2 separate regions of the Homo sapiens genome follow, and region 1 is linked to region 2. Evidence: fine-mapped expression QTL. A gene starts in region 2. The other region holds a variant in brackets. All regions are shown on one strand. Distances are between the middles of the regions.

Region 1 (5,379 bases), 28 kb after region 2:
ATCCTTTGGATATATACCCAGTAATGGGATGGCTGGGTCAAATGGTACTTCTAGTTCTAGATCCTTGAGGAATTGCCACACTGTCTTTCACAATGGTTGAACTAATTTACACTCCCACCAACAGTATAAAAGCATTCCTATTTCTTCACATCCTCTCCAGCTTCTGTTGTTTCCTGACTTAAAAAGGGGATTTTTAAATGCCTTTTTTAATTTTCCCCTCAAACCCCTTCCACTCAGTCCCCTCCACCCCCAGCTTTTCTGTCGCAGGAAATGAAACCACCTTACACTGTTACTCAAACCAAAACCCCAGGAGTCTTTGACTCTCCACCCACCCCAACCAATGCAATACATCAGGAAGTTCTGTTAACTCCATCACCAAGATACCTCCTAATGCTGTTTGTGACACCTCCACTGCTGCCATCTTGGTCCGAGATACCATCGTTTCTCTCCTAATCCCCTCCCTGCTTCCTCTCTGGCACCTGTAGTCTAGTTATAGCTCAAATGCCAGAGGGGTGTTTTAAAACATAATCAGAACATGTTCTTTTCACTCCAGGGGCTTCTAGTCACACTCAGAATCAAACCCAAAGCCTCTTCCTTCCTGGCCTCTGAGACGCTATATGAACTATCCCCGCCTGCCTCTCATCCCTTGGTAACACTATGTTATAGCCACACGTGCCCTGAACACACAGATCTGCCTCTCACCCAAGGGCCTTTGCACAAGCTCTGCCCTGTGCCAGACACATTCTTCTCCTAAGTCGTCCCATGTCTGGTTCCTTCTTATTCGGGTTTCAACTTCAATGCCATCCTCTTTGAGAGACCTTTGACCACTTAGATGTAGCCCCCAGTTCCTGCACCCCAGCTGTCATTTCCTTGCACATCTCTGTCTTATCTTCGTCATACCATTTACTATTATTACATATTTTCTCCTTATTTATACATTCCTGCCACCTCAGAATGTGAATGCCATGAGAATAGGGTCCTGGTCATCCCGTTCAGTGTTGCATCCCAGCACCCACAGCAGTCCCTGGCACAGAGTAAGTCTTCAGGATATGTTTGATGATTAAATGAATGAATGAATATCTTTTAGAAAGAGCCAGTCCTCTCCATAGACTGCAACCTAAATGATGAGACTCAGAAGTGTTTCAAAATCCCCATTGCCTAATAAGACATTTCAACTTTTAGATTAATTCCAGTGGCCACTGCCTTAAAATATCATTGTTATTGTAAAAAAAAAAATTACCTAAAGGAGAACAGAGGTCTTGTACTACGCTGTTAATTCTTCAAAACTTAAGACTGAGTTAGTTTTCAAATCATTTTTATCTTAGAAATCAAAGGCAGTTGGACCAAGGACAAATACATTATAATGAAAGTGTGAAAGAGAGAATATGAAAAGTTGGCTGCATGGGGGCATTGCCCAGTCAAGACAGATGTGGGTGAAACATCATGGGCAAGGAGGGGGTTTTCCCACGAGAGGCCAAAATTGGAGAGAGGGTGAAGAGAGGGTTTGCTGGGTGCTTCTCACATGCTAGCATCGTGTTAGTTGCCTTAGGAATAAGGAAGAAGTGAAGCACAAACTCTGGCCCTCAGAACCTTCTGGGAAACCTGATGCTATGGTAATTTCTGGTGAGGATGATCATGTTTAATAAACAAGGCACAAACATTTCAGCTCTGCTATATCCCCAGGCGTCTCTCCCAAAATCAGTTTACTTCTCTACTTTACAAGAAAAATCGGTTAGCTTCAGGGTTTATAAAACTCACTAAAACATACAAATGTAAAACCAAATGTTACCCTGCTGATTTGAAAGGGATTCTGGCATGACTTCTCAGATAAAGATACAAATACATTCTTTGTTCATTTCCATGAACGGCCTTTTTATGGCTTTTGAGACCTAGTCTAAGTCAGTAAAAGTCAGAATTTGTGTTGCTGATAGGTGTTGGCCTTGTAAAACTGGAAAAAAGGAATCACATTTTCTATAACATATGAATGCACAAGTGATTCATTCTTTGGCTCAGGATGGAAACATTTATTTTTGGCACTCTTGATTCTTCTTTCTTCATTAGCTTCACAGATTTTTCTCAATACGATGTCGACGTTGGATGGGCTTCATTCACAAGGAAACACCAAGATAAATGGGGTGACTAACATCCAACTATTTAAAACTTGTAAATATTTATGAGAAAATTATATCCGTCTTTGTGGGGATTTCTCTCTGAAACGTGGATGTAACTATTGAGGGCTCTAGCTTCCCTTTTAAATGGTGGATTCTAGTGTTAGTATTGCAGTGCTCTACAGCAAAATCAGTATGACCATTGTGTATAAAATAGCTACGCTGAATCTTGAATAAAAGGGATAATGCTTCTTTACTTGTACGACCCTTCCCACTGCTGAG[C/T]CTAGAACATCATATTTTGAGATCAGTGACCTAAGTCCTGGACCAGCAAGATAATTCGCAGGGCCCAGTGCAAAAAGGAAATATGGGGCCTTTTGTTAAAATATATATATATTAAAAATGTCAAGATGATAACAGAGAACATCAAACAAGCATGGAGCTCCTCTAAATGTGGCAACCTATGTGACTGTACAGGTCTCAAGCCCAGAAAGCTGACCCTGCACAAGCCCTCATTTGAGACCTTTGCTATGACTTGTTCAGGTGAATTAACGATTCTGCACCTACTTTGTCCTATCTGCAGAACAGGTGAAAAGAGTAACATATTTTCTATTAATCATGATGATTACCTATAACAACTGAGAGTTGATTTTTTAGTATACCAGTCAGGCAGGTAAAAGGCGATGCAACTTAGCATTGGGGACTGTCATCCCCAGTAAAAACTAGGAAATTTGTAAATGTCCACTTACTGGTTGTTACCCAAATAGAATAGACAGGGACAGTGGTCTGAGGATTGAGGTACAAATATCAGAAGGATGAGAAGAGTCATGAGAAAAATAATGAAAATACCTATAGTCTTAAAAAAATTTTTTTTTGAGACAGAGTCTTGCTCTGTCACCCAGGCTGGAGTGCAGTGGTGTGATCTCAGCTCACTGCAACCTCCAGTGAGCTCAAGCGATCCTCCTGCCTTAGCCTCCCAAGTAGCTGGGACTGCAGGCACATGCCCCCATGCCTGGCTAATTTTGTGTTTTTTGTAAAGATGGAGTTTTGCCATGTTGCCCAGGCTGGTCTTGAACTCCTGGGCTCGAGTGGTCCACCTGCCTTGGGTCTCCCAGAGTGCTGGGATTACAGATGCAAGACACAGTGCCCAGCCTAAATTTTTTATTACATATATTTTATTTTAGAGAAGAGGTTTCACCATGTTGCCCAGGTTGACCTTGAACTCCTGGGCTCAAGCAATCTTCCCACCTCAACCTCTGAGTAATCAGGACTACAGGTGTGCAACACTGTGCCTGGCTTATGTATTTTTTATTTTAAAAACAACTGTATAAGTTGAATGAGCCAGGCATGGTGGCTCGCACTTGTAATCCCAGCACTTTGGGAGGCAGAGGCAGGTGGATCACTTGAGGTCAGGAGTTCGAGACCAGCCTGGCCAACAGGGTGAACCCCCATCTCTACTAAATAAACAAACAGACAAACAACAACAAAAAACTCAACAACTGTGTAGGTTGAAAAGCCATCATAAGTCTATTTAAATAAGCAATTAAAAAAATATTTGATTATTTTTAATGTTTAAAGTGTTTCGTGGTCTTTTTAAAATAGGTTTTAAAAAACTGTGGTAATAATGGCCGGGCGTGGTGGCTCATGTCTGTAATCCCAGCACTTTGGGAGGCCAAGGCGGGCGGATCACGAGGTCAGCAGGTCGAGACCATCCTGGCTAACGCGGTGAAACCCTGTCTCCACTGAAAATACAAAAAATTAGCCGGGCACGGTGGTGGGCGCCTGTAGTCTCAGCTACTCAGGAGGCTGAGGCAGGAGAATGGCGTGAACCTGGGAGGCGGAGCTTGCAGTGAGCCAAGATAGCGCCACTGCACTCCAGCCTGGGCGACAGAGCGAGACTCCATCTCAAAAAAAAAAAAAAAAAAACCAAGTGTGATAATACACACATAACACAGAATTTACCATCATAACCATTTTTAAACCTACAGTTCAGTAGTTTTAAGTACATTCACACTGTTGTGTCACTGTTGGGACATGGAAAACAACACCCTAAAATGAAGGCCTCAGAAGCAGCCTGAGAAGCAAAAGGTTTTCTCTGACCTTCTCCTGCTCGCCTCCTGTCTCTCAGTCCCACTCTTCCCCGAGGGCAGCCATAGAAACTAGAATCCCTCTTCCCCACGTGGGTCCTAGAAACCAGAACCCCTTTTCCCGAAAGCCAGCTATAAAACCTAAAAATATTATCAAACTTTTCATCCGCCTTTCTTGTAAACCAAAAATAAAATTCTAAGTACTCCAACCATCTGAACAGACTCCTCCTCTTGGCAAGGGCATCCCAAAGTTAACCTGAAAAACAAGCTCAGGCCATGATGGGAAGGGGGAGCCAGACATGCCTCATTGTACCCTCTTCCTTTTAGAATTGTTGATAGAACAGACTCCTTAAGTCTGATAAGAAACATTTACAATCTGTTCTCTCTGAAGGCTTAACCTGCACGATAAAACCTTCGTCTCCACAATCCTTTATCATAACCCAGACATTCCTTTCTATTGATAATAACTCTTTCAACCAATTGCAAATCAGAAAATCTTTAAATCTCCCTGTGACCTGGAAGTCCCCACTTTGAGTGGTCCCACCTTTCTGGACCAAACCAATGTACATCTTACATGTATTGATTGATGTCTCATGTTTCCCTAAAATGTATAAAACAAAGTCGTGGCCTGACCACCTTAGGCACATAGGCAGGGCCTCTTGAGGCTGTGTCATGGGTGTGTCCTTAACCTTGGCAAAGTAAACTTTCTACATTGATCGGGACCTGTCTCATATACTTTTGGTTTACATTCTGTATAAAAACTGGTCATAAGGAAATGATCGGACCTACCTTGTTTGATTGTAGGTCATAAGACCCCCATTCCAGAAAGGGTCCTGTCCCATACGCAGAAGGAAGAAATGCTGCTCAGAGAGGCCAAGAAGAATCTAGACAGACAGGCCTTGCTGGGTTTCCTCACTCCATCTGTTAAAGTTACATCATACCCTTTTGTCCAGTCATATTTCTAAACAGCTCTACATACTTTTTGAACCTAAGCATAAAAATGTGCACTTTCCTCTGTCTTCATTCTGAAGGTTCCCATGTACACATTAAATGCATTTGTATGTTATTTCTCCTACTAGTCTGCCTTTTGTGAGTTGATTTTTCAGTGAAACTTCATAGGGAGAAGGGGAACTTTTCCCTTGGCCCCTAGATAACTAATCTCCAGAACATTCTCGCCTTGCAAAACT
Region 2 (5,379 bases):
CAGCCTCTCTAGTAGCGGGAACCACAGGTGCACACCACCATGTCTGGTTAATTTTTTGTATTTTTAGTAGAGACAACGTTTCACCATGTTGGCCAGGCTGGTCTCAAATTCCTGACCTCAGGTGATCCTCCCGCCTCGGCCTCCCAAGGTGCTGGGATTACAGGCATGAGTCACTGGGCCTGGTCATAAATTCTGTTTTCTAAGCAAACTTATCTTACATCAGAGGGCAGAATGGTTAGGGAAAATATCTAGTGAAAAAGACCACCAACAAAGGAGCACCATCTCTCAATTGTCACACTAATGTGCAGTGACACTTTGGCAACTGACTCCCAGTTACTGGCATACAGTTTCATCTACCAGTTGGAGCCAAATGGCAGATTTGGGATTTTTCTTAATCCGAGTTATTATTCAGAACAACATATTCAACACAAATATTTAACCACTAGTGTCAGATTTTATTTTTACATGATAACTCCTCAAGCCTTTAACCGCAAGAGTGCATACAAGGTAAAATTAAAAACAAAATTAAGCCTGCTGACTTTCACTGTGATTGTGGTTTGATATCATGCAGGATAGATCACAACTGCTGATTCATATTAGGAAAGAGAGCCCCCAACTGTCACAAGCACATTGTGTTTGAAAATACAAAACCTTACCAAATCACTTAGTACTTAAAATTAACAACATCCTCATCATCTTGTGGTTGAAATGATGACTGAACAATAACTCAAGCTAGTTGTGTTCTATATATTTTTAATTAATATAATTAGTATTCCTAGATCTTTTTAAATTGCTCTACTCTAGCCCTAGGGAAAAATGATTTCAGAAGGCTGAATACGTATGCTGATTCAAGATATGATTTCTCACACACCCAACCTCTATAATTTTGGATTATAGAGCAATATAGAGTAATTCTGGCACCATCTCTTTGGCAATGCTGTTTAAAAACAAAGTTACTATTACACACAGCCCAGGATATTGACTTCGCATTGCACATAAATACATTTATATAATACTTTTTCTTTAATATAGAAGCCATAGCCTTGATTTTTTTGAAAAATGATGAAGAATATGGTAATTATGAGACTCTCAATTGACTCAAAAGTTCAGAGCTAAAATCAAGGTAGAGTTTGAACACACCTTACAAAAAGTTGAGATCCAAATTGCATAAAATTTATGAAACTTTTGATTTAAGGACTAAGTTTTCTGGTAACCTCTTTGGGAACATCAGGATAATAAAAGATGATTAAGTAATAATGGTATCTCGGCCGGGCACGGTGGCTCATACCTGTAATCCTAGCACTTTGGGAGGCCGAAGCAGGAGGATCACAAGGTCAGGAGTTTGAGACCAGCCTGGCCAATATGGTGAAACCCCATCTCTACTAAAAATACAAAAAAATTAGCCAGCTGTGGTGGCGCATTCCTGTAATCCCAGCTACTCGGGAGACTGAGGCAGGAGAATTGCTTGAACTCAGGAAGCCGGAGGTTGCAGTGAGCCGAGATCACGCCACTGCACTCCAGCCTGGGCAACAGAGCGAGACTCTGACCAAAAAAAAAAAAAAAAAAAAAAGAAAGAAAGAAAGAAAGAAAGAAAGATGAAATAACGATATCTGATCAAATTATTTGCCTTGGCCGGATGGGTGCCAGTCCTGGCTATAAAATTCACCATCTGGGAGACCTTGAACAAATTATTTAATTTATCTGATTCAAACTTGCTGTCTATAAAAATGAAAATAACTTTATGTAGTTTCTAACTTAGAACAATAAATTATTAATGATAAATATGAAAATGCTGGGAAGAGTTTCAATCACTACTAATATATATTCATTATCTAGCATTGTCTTCTTCAAATGGATACATTTTAAAAACAGCCTTTAATCATAGAACCACTTTTTTGCATAACTTTAAGCCATAGGGCTAATTATACACGACACAAATCTAACCAACAGAACTGTACTACTTAGATTAAAAGAAACTTGCAGAAATGATAGTTTTGCATAACTTTAAATAAAAGGCTAACTACAGATGACACAGAAATCTTACCAACAAAACTGCATTATTTCAGTTTAAAAGAGACATGAAGAAATGACATTAACAGTCCAAGTCATATATAAAGAAGCCCACACAAAGGGGAACTGAAACGGATAAACGGACTTACTTGGGAGTTTATCTTGAAAAGGAACTAAAACATACATCCCAAATAACCAATGTCTGCAAGATCCAAAAAGACAGAAGAACTCCAATAATGGAAAGGACTCAGTGACACTGAATTACAATGGACAAGTCCAGTAAAATTCAGTTCTTCCTACTATTCCTCCCAACAAAAGCAGAAAACAACCAACACGCACGGTACCGGTTGACTTGTTCTGTGCCACTCAGAGTAGGTGCGTGGAAGAGCAGACAGGAAGCTGGGGCATATTTAATGAATACTGAAAGGGAGGACTGAGGGTTTGGCAAAGTGTTCACGAGACGGACCCTACCTTTCACAGATTTCCCAATACTGTGTAAGTGAGTGACAGAACTGTAGTTTTGGGCAACAGTCTTCAAAAACGCTTCCATCCCTTCCTGGCGGTGGTAGTTGAAATCCAGCGCAGCTACCAAAGGCAGCAACAGCCCTAGCCAGAGGCACGGGAAGTCCATGTTCTAGAGATGAATAAAAATAAGAAGAACCTGAGAACACATGAGGGCAGGCGGGGGCATCACCAGCTACGTCTCGGTACTCCGGTCTCAGGGTCTCCCGACACTGACGCTCCCTGCCTCCTAAGGAGGCAAAAGCTGGAAGCAACACCTTCGGGAGTGAGCCGTGCAACCAGAGACCGGGAGCACGGGCAGCCTCGGTGCCCTCGACCCAGCCGCCCGCGCCTCCCTCTCCTCCTCCTCCTGGCGCCTCCGCCGTCCGGCAGCTGCCACAGCTGCGCCCGGCCCCGCGCACCCCCAGCCTCACCAGGTCCCAGGCGCGCACCTCTACCCACCCGCGGCCGCCCGGCGGGGCCGGGTGTTATAGCCCGGTCAGAGGGCGGGCGCGCCCGGGCCCCGCCCCCGGACGTCCCTCCGGCCCACTCCGGAGCCGCGCGGGTGCCTCCCGGGCGGGGCCTCAGCCGCCTTCGCACCTAGGAGAGACGGCGCCCGCGCGGTGCGCCCTTTCGTGGCGCGGCTGCTGGTGCCCGCGGCCGGGCGGCTGAGCTGGGCGGAGGGCTGCGGGCATGGAGTCGCCGCTCGCGGACAGTCTTTGCTGGAGCCCCAGGTCAGAAGTGTGTCCTCGCCTCGGCCACGGCTGTAGCCTGGGCAGCCACAGGGCGCTCCACCGAGGGACACTCTCTGTCGCAGACTGCAGCCGCTTGGGAGACGTTTAGGGCTCGGCGGGTTTCCTGCGGTTGGCGGTGCCGGGGCCCACCTGGAGCCGGGACGCATGCGGAGTCCTGAGTGCCCTGAGCCCCGCGCGGGCTCCTGCGGGACGGGCGGCGTCGGCCCCGGCAGGGCGAGCCAAGCTCCCAGCAGTGCCAAGCTGCCCAGCGAGGCTAAGCAATCACGGGGCTTCGAGAAAGAACGCGCGCGTGTGTGGAAGTTTTAAATGCCACGAAGTGCAGAGTGCAGGACATTTTCCAACAAGTTTACATAGTGGGTGGGATTTGTGTAAATTAGAATTGAATTTAAAACTGGAAGTCACATCGAAGAAGGCAGGACCACTGTTGTAAATCCGATGCTTCCTCCACCTGCACCTGAGTCTTAGGCCAATTACAGGTCTCTCGTCCTAAAACGTCCTAAAATGCTCCTTTCTGGAAGGATGGCATGGTCTCTGCACGAGAGAGAACGAAGGCTTCACTCAAACCTGAGAGGTGGTTTGTGGCACGGGCCAACCCCCTCTACCTCTCTAAAAGATTCATTCTCATTCATTCTCTCTCTCTCCCCTCCCCCTCTCCCCTTCCCTCTCTCCCCCTTTCTCCCACTCTCTCCCGGATTGTAAGTAACCGTGTCAGGGTATTGGGGGCCCGTGTCAAGGTCCGCAGAATATAAAAAGTTTGAAAACCACTGATTTGAGATAACATTCCACTTTTACAGACTAAAAATACGGATGCAAGCCCACGACTAATTGAATAGAATTTTTCTCGTGGAGGCCCAAGAAAGTGTATTTTTAGAGAGGACCTTGAATGAATCTAATGTGCCTTCAAGAGCTGAGAACCGTTAGATTCCCTGCCCCTTCTTTCTTACAGATATAGATACTTTTCCTAGAATTGCGCACTCAGGACTCCCTGAGACTTCCAGTGATTCTGCCGCAGCATAGAAGAGTGGTTTAAGAACTGAGGCGCTCTGCCCTTGCGATAGTTTGCTGAGAATGATGGTTTCCAGCTTCATCCATGTCCGTACAAAGGACATGAACTCATCCTTTTTTATGGCTGCATAGTATTCCGTGGTGTATATGTGCCACAGTTGTGCACATGTGCCCTAGAACTTAAAGTATATATAAAGAAAAAAAAAGAACTGAGGCGCTCACGGGATGAGTGCCAATTCTTGCTCTGACACTCAGTGGCTGTGTCGACTCTGTGCCTTATTTTCTGGTGTGTAAAGTGGAAGTCTTAATTGTACCTACCTAAATAAGGTTGGCAGGCACATTGTAAGAACTGTGCGAAGCGTTTATTACATAAATAAACCAGCTTAATTCGTAACTCTTTAAAGGGAATTTTCCAAGAGTTGGAATTTTTTTTTTAATTTTTTATTTCTTTCTTTATTTTTTGAGATGGAGTCTCAATTCTGTTGCCCAGTCTGGAGTGCAATGGCATGATCTCGGCTCACTGCAACCTCCTCTCAGGTTCAAGCAATTCTCCTGCCTCAGCCTACCGAGTAGCTCGGATTACAGGCACCTGCCACCAGGCCCGGCTAATTTTTGTATTTTTAGTAGAGACGGGGTTTCACCATGTTGGCCAGGCTGGTCTGGAACTCCCGACCTCGGGCGATCTGCCTGCCTCGGCCTCCCAGATCGCTGGGATTACAGGCGTGAGCCACCGTGCCTGGCCATCTTTTTTTTTTTCTTAAAGAGAAGTTGTTTTATTGTTTGTTTGTTTGTTTGTTTGTTTGTTTGTTTTGAGATACAGTCTCACTCTGTTGCCCAGGCTTGAGTGCAGTGGTGCAATCTCAGCTCACTGCAGCCTCTGCCTTCCAGGTTCAAGCGATTCTTGTGTTTCAGCCTCTAACGTACCTGGGATTACAGGCACGCATCGCCACACCTACGTAACTTTTGTATTTTTACACCACACATGCCTAACTTCTGCATTTTTAATAGAGACCAGGTTTCACCATGTTGGCCAGGCTAGTCTTGAACTCCTGGCCTCAAGTGATCCTTCTGCCTCAGCCTCCCAAAGTGCTGGGATTACATGAGTGAG

The links. PIP is the estimated chance that this variant, and not a neighbour inherited with it, causes the effect.
Region 1: its variant is fine-mapped to the expression of CPM in whole blood (INTERVAL, PIP 0.93).

What each region holds. Positions count from the first base shown.
Region 1 is chr12:68,958,188-68,963,566 of GRCh38, forward strand. It overlaps a transcript of CPM not described here. Among named protein-coding and RNA genes, the nearest start is that of CPM, 28 kb to the left of the region's middle. The variant C/T (reference allele first, on the strand shown) is at 2,391.
Region 2 is chr12:68,930,197-68,935,575 of GRCh38, forward strand. CPM (carboxypeptidase M) reads right to left here and starts at 2,975. Exons shown (of 9, transcript NM_198320.5): 1 at 2,946-2,975; 2 at 2,482-2,644. The coding sequence starts at 2,641. RefSeq lists silencers at 2,855-3,214, 3,245-3,354.